2 separate regions of the Homo sapiens genome follow, and region 2 is linked to region 1. The links come from fine-mapping of genetic effects on gene expression. A gene starts in region 1. The other region holds a variant in brackets. All regions are shown on one strand. Distances are between the middles of the regions. Region 1 holds the start of LRRC58 (leucine rich repeat containing 58). Region 2 has its middle 30 kb from the start of GPR156.

What was found. PIP is the estimated chance that this variant, and not a neighbour inherited with it, causes the effect.
Region 2: its variant is the best candidate, but not a certain one, in a credible set for the expression of LRRC58 in whole blood (INTERVAL, PIP 0.70).

The regions. Positions count from the first base shown.
Region 1 is chr3:120,346,951-120,351,206 of GRCh38, forward strand. LRRC58 (leucine rich repeat containing 58) reads right to left here and starts at 2,404. Exons shown (of 4, transcript NM_001099678.2): 1 at 1,794-2,404. The coding sequence starts at 2,293. It also overlaps the pseudogene BTNL12P. RefSeq lists an enhancer at 1,670-1,719 and a silencer at 2,070-2,399.
Region 2 is chr3:120,313,538-120,317,793 of GRCh38, forward strand. No RefSeq gene overlaps it. Among named protein-coding and RNA genes, the nearest start is that of GPR156, 30 kb to the left of the region's middle. RefSeq lists an enhancer at 1-415. The variant A/G (reference allele first, on the strand shown) is at 1,773.

The sequences.
Region 1 (4,256 bases):
TTGCCCAAATTTATATTTGCCACTTTCCCTCTTGCTCACTTCCCAGTACAATGTCCTTCTTTCAGAATTTTAGTAGTTACCCTCCTTGCCTCTGGGCTTTCCCATGTGCCTCTGTCATTTTGTCTCAAGGCATTCTGTAGGTCTTCATAGAACTCATAACCACTGTAATTAAATAATGAGGTTCATAGTTAGTTGTTTAATGTCTGTCTCCTGGATCATGTTCACCATTGTATCCCCAATACTTGGGACAGTGCCTGACACAGGGCAGGTATTCAATAAATATCTATTGAAGAGTAAATGAAGAGACATCTTGCCCAAATGCTTCATTTGTAGATTAGAAAGCTACAGTTAGGATACGCTACAGTTAGGATACAAGTGACTTGCCTAAGGCTGGAGCACCAAGAGTTCTTTTTTCCCAGGCCAATATTCTTTTTTTTTTTTTTTTTTTTTTTGAGACAGAGTCTCGCTCTGTCGCCCAGGCCGGACTGCGGACTGCAGTGGCGCAATCTCGGCTCACTGCAAGCTCCGCTTCCCGGGTTCACGCCATTCTCCTGCCTCAGCCTCCCGAGTAGCTGGGACTACAGGCGCCCGCCACCGCGCCCGGCTAATTTTTTGTATTTTTAGTAGAGACGGGGTTTCACCTTGTTAGCCAGGATGGTCTCGATCTCCTGACCTCATGATCCACCTGCCTTGGCCTCCCAAAGTGCTGGGATTACAGGCGTGAGCCACCGCGCCCGGCCTTCCCAGGCCAATATTCTTTTGCTCCACTTAACTCTGAGGTCCCTTCTACCTTTAACGTTCTGTTATCTCTGAAAATACAATAAAGTGTGAAAATATCTTACAGATGGAAGATACCTCTTTTTCGTTTTGTACAATACATTTGGCTCTATTTCCCACTCCCCCACCGGGCACTTTTATTATCCTGTTTCTCTGCTTCCTCCTAAAGTTAAATTTAACATATTTACTGCATAATCTAGTAGGTGAAGCAGATAATTCCTGTAAACAAGGAATCATATCCAATAAGGTAAATGCAAAGGCAAGATGAATGAAGCACAGAGAAAGTACAGCATAGGCTGTACTTTTTTGTGCAGGGAGTAGTAACGAAAAAAATTGTTGTGCAGGGAGTAGTAAAAAAGGAATCACAGAGATGATTAACTTGAGATAGCTTTTGAAGGATGATAGGCGTTTGCCAGGTGAAGGAAACATTCCAAGCAAGGGAAACAGCACGTGTACAGAGGCACTGCATCCATTCAACACATACTGAGTGCCTACCAGCAACTCCAAGCTGCTTTCTCTACGTGGGAAAATGCATAGGTCACTGAACTCCACAAATGGTAGTTGGTACTGCCACAGAGAAGAGGAAGCTGCAAATGTAGTGGAAAGCAAGGGTTAGATCAGAGCACCTTGTACGCCACGCTCAAAGGCACGTACTTTGATCTATAGAGATGGAAATCCACGGAAGACTTTTGAGCAAAGAAGTGACAACCTCTGATTTACATCTGTTTTGAGTTTCCACTCAGTTTGGATCACGCCCCAGATTCAATAAGGAAGACAGAAAAAATGCCTCGAGAATCTGCATAGGCCAAACACAACACACCAAACAGTCACACATGCGAACATACTAGGTATTTACAACAACTTGCTGAGATGGTTGGGCAGAACTCACTACCGCACAGTTAAAGAGAAAGCTTGGAAATAGTTACGTGACAAACGTTGAGGTGCCCAGGCCCGGCGCCCCAGGGTTCCCGGACACCGCCCGAGGCCTCCCCACCCTCCGGCACACACCCGCTCACCTCTGCAAGTTCTCGATCTCAGCCGGGATGCTCTGCAGTTGGTTGCCGCCCAGGCTCAGGGTCTGCAGCGCGCGCAGCTCTAAGAGCGAGGCAGGCACCTCCTGGAAACAGTTGCCGCTGAGGTTGAGCACCTGGAGGCTGCGGCAGAGCGGCGACTGGGCCAGGCCCTTGGGCAGCGCACTGGGCCCGCCGAGCCGGTTGTTCTTGGCCAGCAGCGTGCGCAGGCCGCGCAGAGCGAGCAGCTCCGGCCCGAGCGCGGTCAACGCGTTGCCGCTCACGTCCAGCAGCTGGAGGTGCGGGAAGCCGCTGCCCAGCGCCCGTGGCAGCGACACCAGACGGTTGTGAGGCAGCAGCAGCCGCAGCAGCGCCTCCCGCGCCCCGCGCCGCTCCTCCCCCCGCGCCTCCAGCTCAGACTCCAGCGTCTCGGTGGACACGCTGAGGCGGGACCAGTTCAGTTCGGCCTCCCCGGCCGTGACCACCGCTGCTCCGGCCTCCTCCATCCTGGCCACCGCACGGCGCGTGGCGCCGGATTCCCCAGAGCGCCGCGCGCGGTCCAGAGGCCGGGAGCTCTGCGGCGCCCCGGAACCTGAACCGAGGGCTGAGTCGGAAGTGGCGCGGGCGGGCGCAAACCCTGCGCGCCTTGGCCGAGTCACGCGACGCGAGTCCTGGGGTGCGCGCGCCGCTCCGGGGCGGGCTCTGCCTCACGAGGCGCGGGGCGCGGAGTGGCAAGAGCGCAGCATGGGCTGCGCAGAACTGAGGCAGACACCCAGAGGCTGCCAAATTGTCATCTGAGCCGGACCGGGTTTCGGCGGCCGCGCTTTATAGTCGCTGGAGCCTGGTGACCTATTCCAGGGCTACAAGACTGCCTCGGCAAACAGCCCAAGGATGTTCGGTTATCTCGCCTTGAGGGTTCGCGCGTCACGTGCCCCCCCCGTCCCCCGCTTGTTTTTCAGTTTAAAAGTGGGGCCCGTGTCTGCAGGACTCTGTGAGCACACAGTAATTTAGTGGTGATTTAGCTCCATGACAGAAAACCGCAGGAATTTAAAGTCCGAGGATTAACAAAGCCGACCTCGAAATGTGAACGCAGCTGGACTAGACCTCAGAACCCCCGGACCCTTACTGGAGGTTCCGCTGTTAAATAGCCTAGGGCAGGGATTTGATTTCAGTTGCCCCATGCATAAAATATGGGTAACACCCGCACTACTTGCCCCACAGAATTATTTTTTTCTTTTTTAAGGCAGAAATGTGTATCAAGTAAGGACGTTTTGCCCGTTTTAATTGTAGAAGCACATACGTGGCTTTTGGTGTAAGTTGTGTCTAGGAGTGAATTTGGGAGATATGGAGGCGGTTGCATGATTTGAGATAGCTCAAATTAATGAGTTAGTTTAAAAACTCAAAGCATAGAGTTTGTACTGCAGGTCAAAACTACAGTTTGGGAAAATCCTGATCTGGTACTAATTTAGTAATTCTAATTAACGTATTTTTCATCCTTGTCCCAAACTCAATCTTTTCTGAAATTACATTTTATGATTTTGAAAAGTAATGAATAGAAATGAGAAAAAATGCTTAGCTTTTTTTTTTTTTAACAAAGCTTATACATAAGAAAGTTAAGTGGTCGTGTATAATCAACGACATTAAATTGCTTTCCTCCTTAAAAAAGGAAAGTCGTTTTTTTCTTGCCAGTCATTTATTTGTATGAGAAACTATGCCTTTACTCTGCAGTCAAACTTTAATTTCTGATTGAGTGGTAGTCCTAGAAGGACGTACTTTGTATGTTTAAGCTAATGGTGGAATGCTTTTTAAAACTGATGAGTCATCTGTTTTGAAAGAGTCCTTTTAAGAACAGACCTTATTTTGGGTCAAGCCAGCATTCTAACAGTAGTCCTAATATCTGAAAATAACAAATATTTAAAATAATAGTTGTTTTTGCTTTAAAATATTTATCTTGGATTTTAAAAAGTGATAGGAACGTAATGTAAAATGAGAAAAAGAAAGGATTCAAACATAATTCAGAAATAAGAGTTGGCCAGGTGCCATGGCTCATGCCTGTAATCCCAGTGCTTTGGCCCAGGCCAGCAGATCGCTGAGGTCAGGAGTTCCAGACCAGCCTGGCCAACATGGGGAAACCCCGTCTCTACAAAAAATACAAAAATTAGCCGGGCCTAGTGGCGCTCGCCTGTGGTGCCAACTACTACACAGGCTGCTGGGAGGATTGTTTCAGCCTAAGAGGTAGAGGTTGCAGAGAGCCATGATTGTGCCACTGCCCTGCACTTTTTTTTTTTTTTGTCTCAAGAAAAATAAAATAAGAGGTAAGATTACAAATCAGTGGAATTAAAGGGAAAAAGATAACCTCAATAATAGCAAATGAGGCTTCCTAGTAGAAAGTTTGGAAAAAAATACTTAGTATGGGAACTCCACATTATATAGAATAAAGGAAAGGAAGTAGAAAAAAAGTGGTGTAGG
Region 2 (4,256 bases), 33 kb before region 1:
TTGATTCTATGTTTTCTTAGAACTAGAAAGAAATTCCTGGCTCTCTCTCTAAGATGGCCAACTACACGCAGCCAGGAGGAACATCTCCCCCCAAGGGACTAGGACATCCGAAGACTGGCAGACCTTGTCTGACCAGCAGAGTGCTCCAGCAGAGTGGCCCCTATGGACACACACCAGCCTGCCTGTGCCCTCCCTCCACTGCAGCCTCCCCCATGCCACTTTGACTGCATGCACTTGCCCACAGCCACCCCCTGCATCACTGTGCCAGTGTATGTGTATGAAGGCAGACTTTGCCTTACCTTCCCTGCCAGTATGTGTGGGTGTGTGCACCCTGCCATGTCACTGCTGCCAGGGTGACTGCACCCTGCTCCCCTCCCCCGTCACAATGCCATTGTTGTCAGATGGTGGTGAGCATGGAGCTTGCCAGTCCTACCCCTGCAAGTGCCCTGCCTCTGTGCCAACACTGCCACTGGCACATAACTAGTCATGGAGAATAGTGAACCCACCCTTGCTCTGACCAGCCACTGCTGTGGGTGTGAATGTGCACAGAGACCTCACACAGTCCTGCACCCTCCAGTGCCCCAACCCTGTACTAATACCACCACCAGAGGAACATGCACACAGCCCCATGAAGGCTGCCACCCTAGTACCCACTAGTACCCTGCTGTAGCTGATGAGCATGCAGTATGCATCCCACCATGCTGCTGCTGCTGCTGCAGCTGGCACAGGCAAATTAGGACAGATCACACTGTCACCCTGCTATGATGTGCTTTGGATGGCATCACCCATTAGAGTATTGTGACCAGTAGTCTGGGAACACCTTGGCCCCTCCAGCACAATAGGTTCATAACCTCGAGGAGCCAGAGAACAAAGTTGGGGCTCAATACCAGTCTCCCAGAGTTAGAACATGCAGTCCAGGAGTCCTGAGCTGAAGCTTGGCCCCCTAAAATCTTCCAGAAATGAAGTCAGTCACCTGAACCCAACACTACTATAATCAGGTCCCCAAGGTCACCAAATAGGATAAAGACAAAAAAGACAGCAACTTCAAAGATGGAAAGAATAAAAGCCCACAAATATAAGAAAAAACCAGCACCATAACTCTGACAACTCAAAAAGCCAGAGTGCCTTCATTCCTCCAAACAACTGTACTTGTTCTCCAGCAAGGGTTCTTACCTGGCTGAGATGGCTGAAATGACAGAAATAGAATTCAGAATATGGATAGGAATGATCATTGAGGTTCAGGAGAATGTTGAAACCCAATCTAAGGAAGCTAAGAATCACAATTAAATGATACAGAGCTGGCAGACAAAGTACCCAGTATAGAAAGAATATAACCAACCTGAAAGAACTGAAAAACACTCTACAAGAACTTCATAATGCAATTGTAATTAATAGCACAATAAACCAAGCTAAGGAAAGAATCTCAGAGCTTAAAGACTGACATTCTGAAGACAGACAAGAATAAAGAAAAAATATTGAAAAGGAATAAACAAAACCTCCAAGAAATGAGGGATTATGCAAAGAGACCAAATCTATGACTCACTGATGTCCCTGAAAGAGAGACTGGTACCAATTTGGAGAATGGTACCAATTTGGAACATATATTTCAGGATATCATCCAAGAGAATTTCCCCAACCTAGCTAGAGAGGCCAACATTCAAATTCAGGAAATGCAAAGAAACACAGTAAGATACTTCACAAGAAGATCATCCCCTAGACACGTAATCATCAGATTCTCCAAGGTCGAAATGAAAGAAAAAAATTTAAAGGCA[A/G]CTAGAGAGAAAGGCCAGGTCACCTACAAAGGGAAGCCCATCCAACTAACAGCAGACCTCTTGGCAGAGACCCTATAAGCCAGAAGAGATTGGGGCCTATATTCAACATTCTTAGAGAAAATAAATTCCAACTAAGAATTTCTTGTCTGCCCAAACTAAACTTCATAAGCAAAGGAGAAATAAGAAATTGCAAATGCTGAGGGAATTTGTTACCACCAGACCTCCCTCAAAAGAGCTCCTGAAAGAGGCACTAAATATGGAAAGACCATTACAAGCTACTATAAAAACACTCTTAAGTACACAGACCAGTGACACTATAAAGCAACCACACAAAGAAGTCAGCATAATAAACAGGTAATGACATGAAGACAGGATCAAATCCACACATATCAATACTAACTTTGAATGTAAATCGACTAAATGCTCCAAGTTAAAGAGACAGAGTGGCAAGCTGGATAAAGAAGCAAGACACAATAGTATGCTGTCGTCAAGAAACCCATATTATATGCAATGACACCCATAGGCTCAAAATTAAGGGATGGAGAAAAATTTACCAAGCAAACAAGAACAAAAATAAAAAAAAATAGGAATTGTAATCCTAACTTCATACAAAACATACTTTAAACCAACAAAGATCAAAAAAGACAAAGAGGACATTCCATAATGGTAAAGGGTTCAATTCAACAAGAAGACCTAGCTCTCCTGAATATATATGCACCCAACACAGGAGCACCCAGATTCATAGAGCAAGTTCCTAGAGACCTTCAAAGAAACTTAGACCCCCACACAATAATAGGGGGAGGCTTCAATGCCCCATTAACAGTATTAGACAGATCATTGAAGCAGAAAATGAACAAAGATAATCAGGACCTGAACTCAACACTGGACCAAATGGACCTCATGGACATCTACAGAACTGTCCATACAAAAACAACAGAAAATACATTCTTCTCATCAACACACATTCTATATCAACCACACACTTGGACATAAAACAATTCTCACCAAATGCAAAAACCCCAAAATTACACCAACCACTCTCTCAGACCACAATGCAATAAAAATAGAACTCAAGACTAACAAAATTGCTCAAAACCATACGATTACTTTGAAATCAAACAACATGCTCCTGAATGACTTTTGGTAAACAATTAAATTAAGGCAGAAATCAAGAAGTTCTTTGAAACTAATGAGAACAAAAAAACAACATACCAGAATCTCTGGGACACAGCTAAGGCAGTATTAAGAGGGAAATTTATAGCACTAAATGCCCACATCAAAAAGTTAGAAAGATGGCTGGGTGCAGTGGCTCATACTTGTAATCCCAGCATTTTGGGAGGCTAAGACAGCAGATCACTTGAGGTCATGAGTTTGAGACCAGCCTGGCCAACATGGTGAAACTGTCTCTACTAAAAATACAAAAATTAGCCAGGCGTGGTGGTGCATGCCTGTGATCCCAGTTACGCAGGAGGCTGAGGCAGGAGAATTGCTTGAACCCTGGAAACAGAGGTTCTAGTGAGCTGAGATCACACCACTGTATTCCAGCCTATCATAACTAAATAACTAGAGAAGCAAGAGAAAACCAACCCCAAGCTTAGCAGAAGACAATAAATAAGCAAAATCAGAGCTGAACTGAAGACAATTGAGACACAAAAAATTCAAAAGATCAGTGAATCTAGGAGCTGACTTTTTGAAAAAGTTAGTAAGATAGACTGCTAGCTAGACTAATAAAGAAGAAAATAAAGAAGATCCAACTAAACAAAATTAGAAAGGACAAGGAGGATATTACTACTGACCCTACAGAAGTACAAATAACTATCAGAGACTACTATGAACAACTCTATTCCTCCAGACTAGAAGAAATGGACAAATTCCTAGATACATACAGCCTCGTAAGACTGAACTAGGAAGAAACTGAATCCCTGAACAGACTAATAACAAGCTCTGAAATTGAATCTGTAACAAATAGCCAACCAATCAAAAAAGGCCCAGGACCAGATGGATTCACAGCCAATTTTTACCAAATATACAAAGAAGAGCCGATACCACTTCTACTGAAACTATTCCCAAAAACTGAGAAGGAGAGACTCCTCCTCAACTCATTCTATGAAGCCAGCATCATCTTCATACCAAAACATGGCAGAGACACACACAAAAAAGAAAACTTCAGGCCAATATTCTTGTTGAACATTGATGGAAAAATCCGCAACAAAATACCAGCAAACCAAATCCAGCAGCAAAAGCTAATCCACCACTATCAAGTAGGCTCTATCCCTGGGATGCAAGGTTAGTTTAACATATACAAACCAATAAATGTGATTCATCACATAAACATAACTAGACAAAAACCACATGATCATCTCAATAGATGCAGAAAAGGCTTTCCATAAAATTCAACATCCCTTCATGTTAAAAACTCTCAACGAACTAGGTATTGAAGGAACATACCTCAAAATAAGAGCCATCTATGACAAACCCACAGCC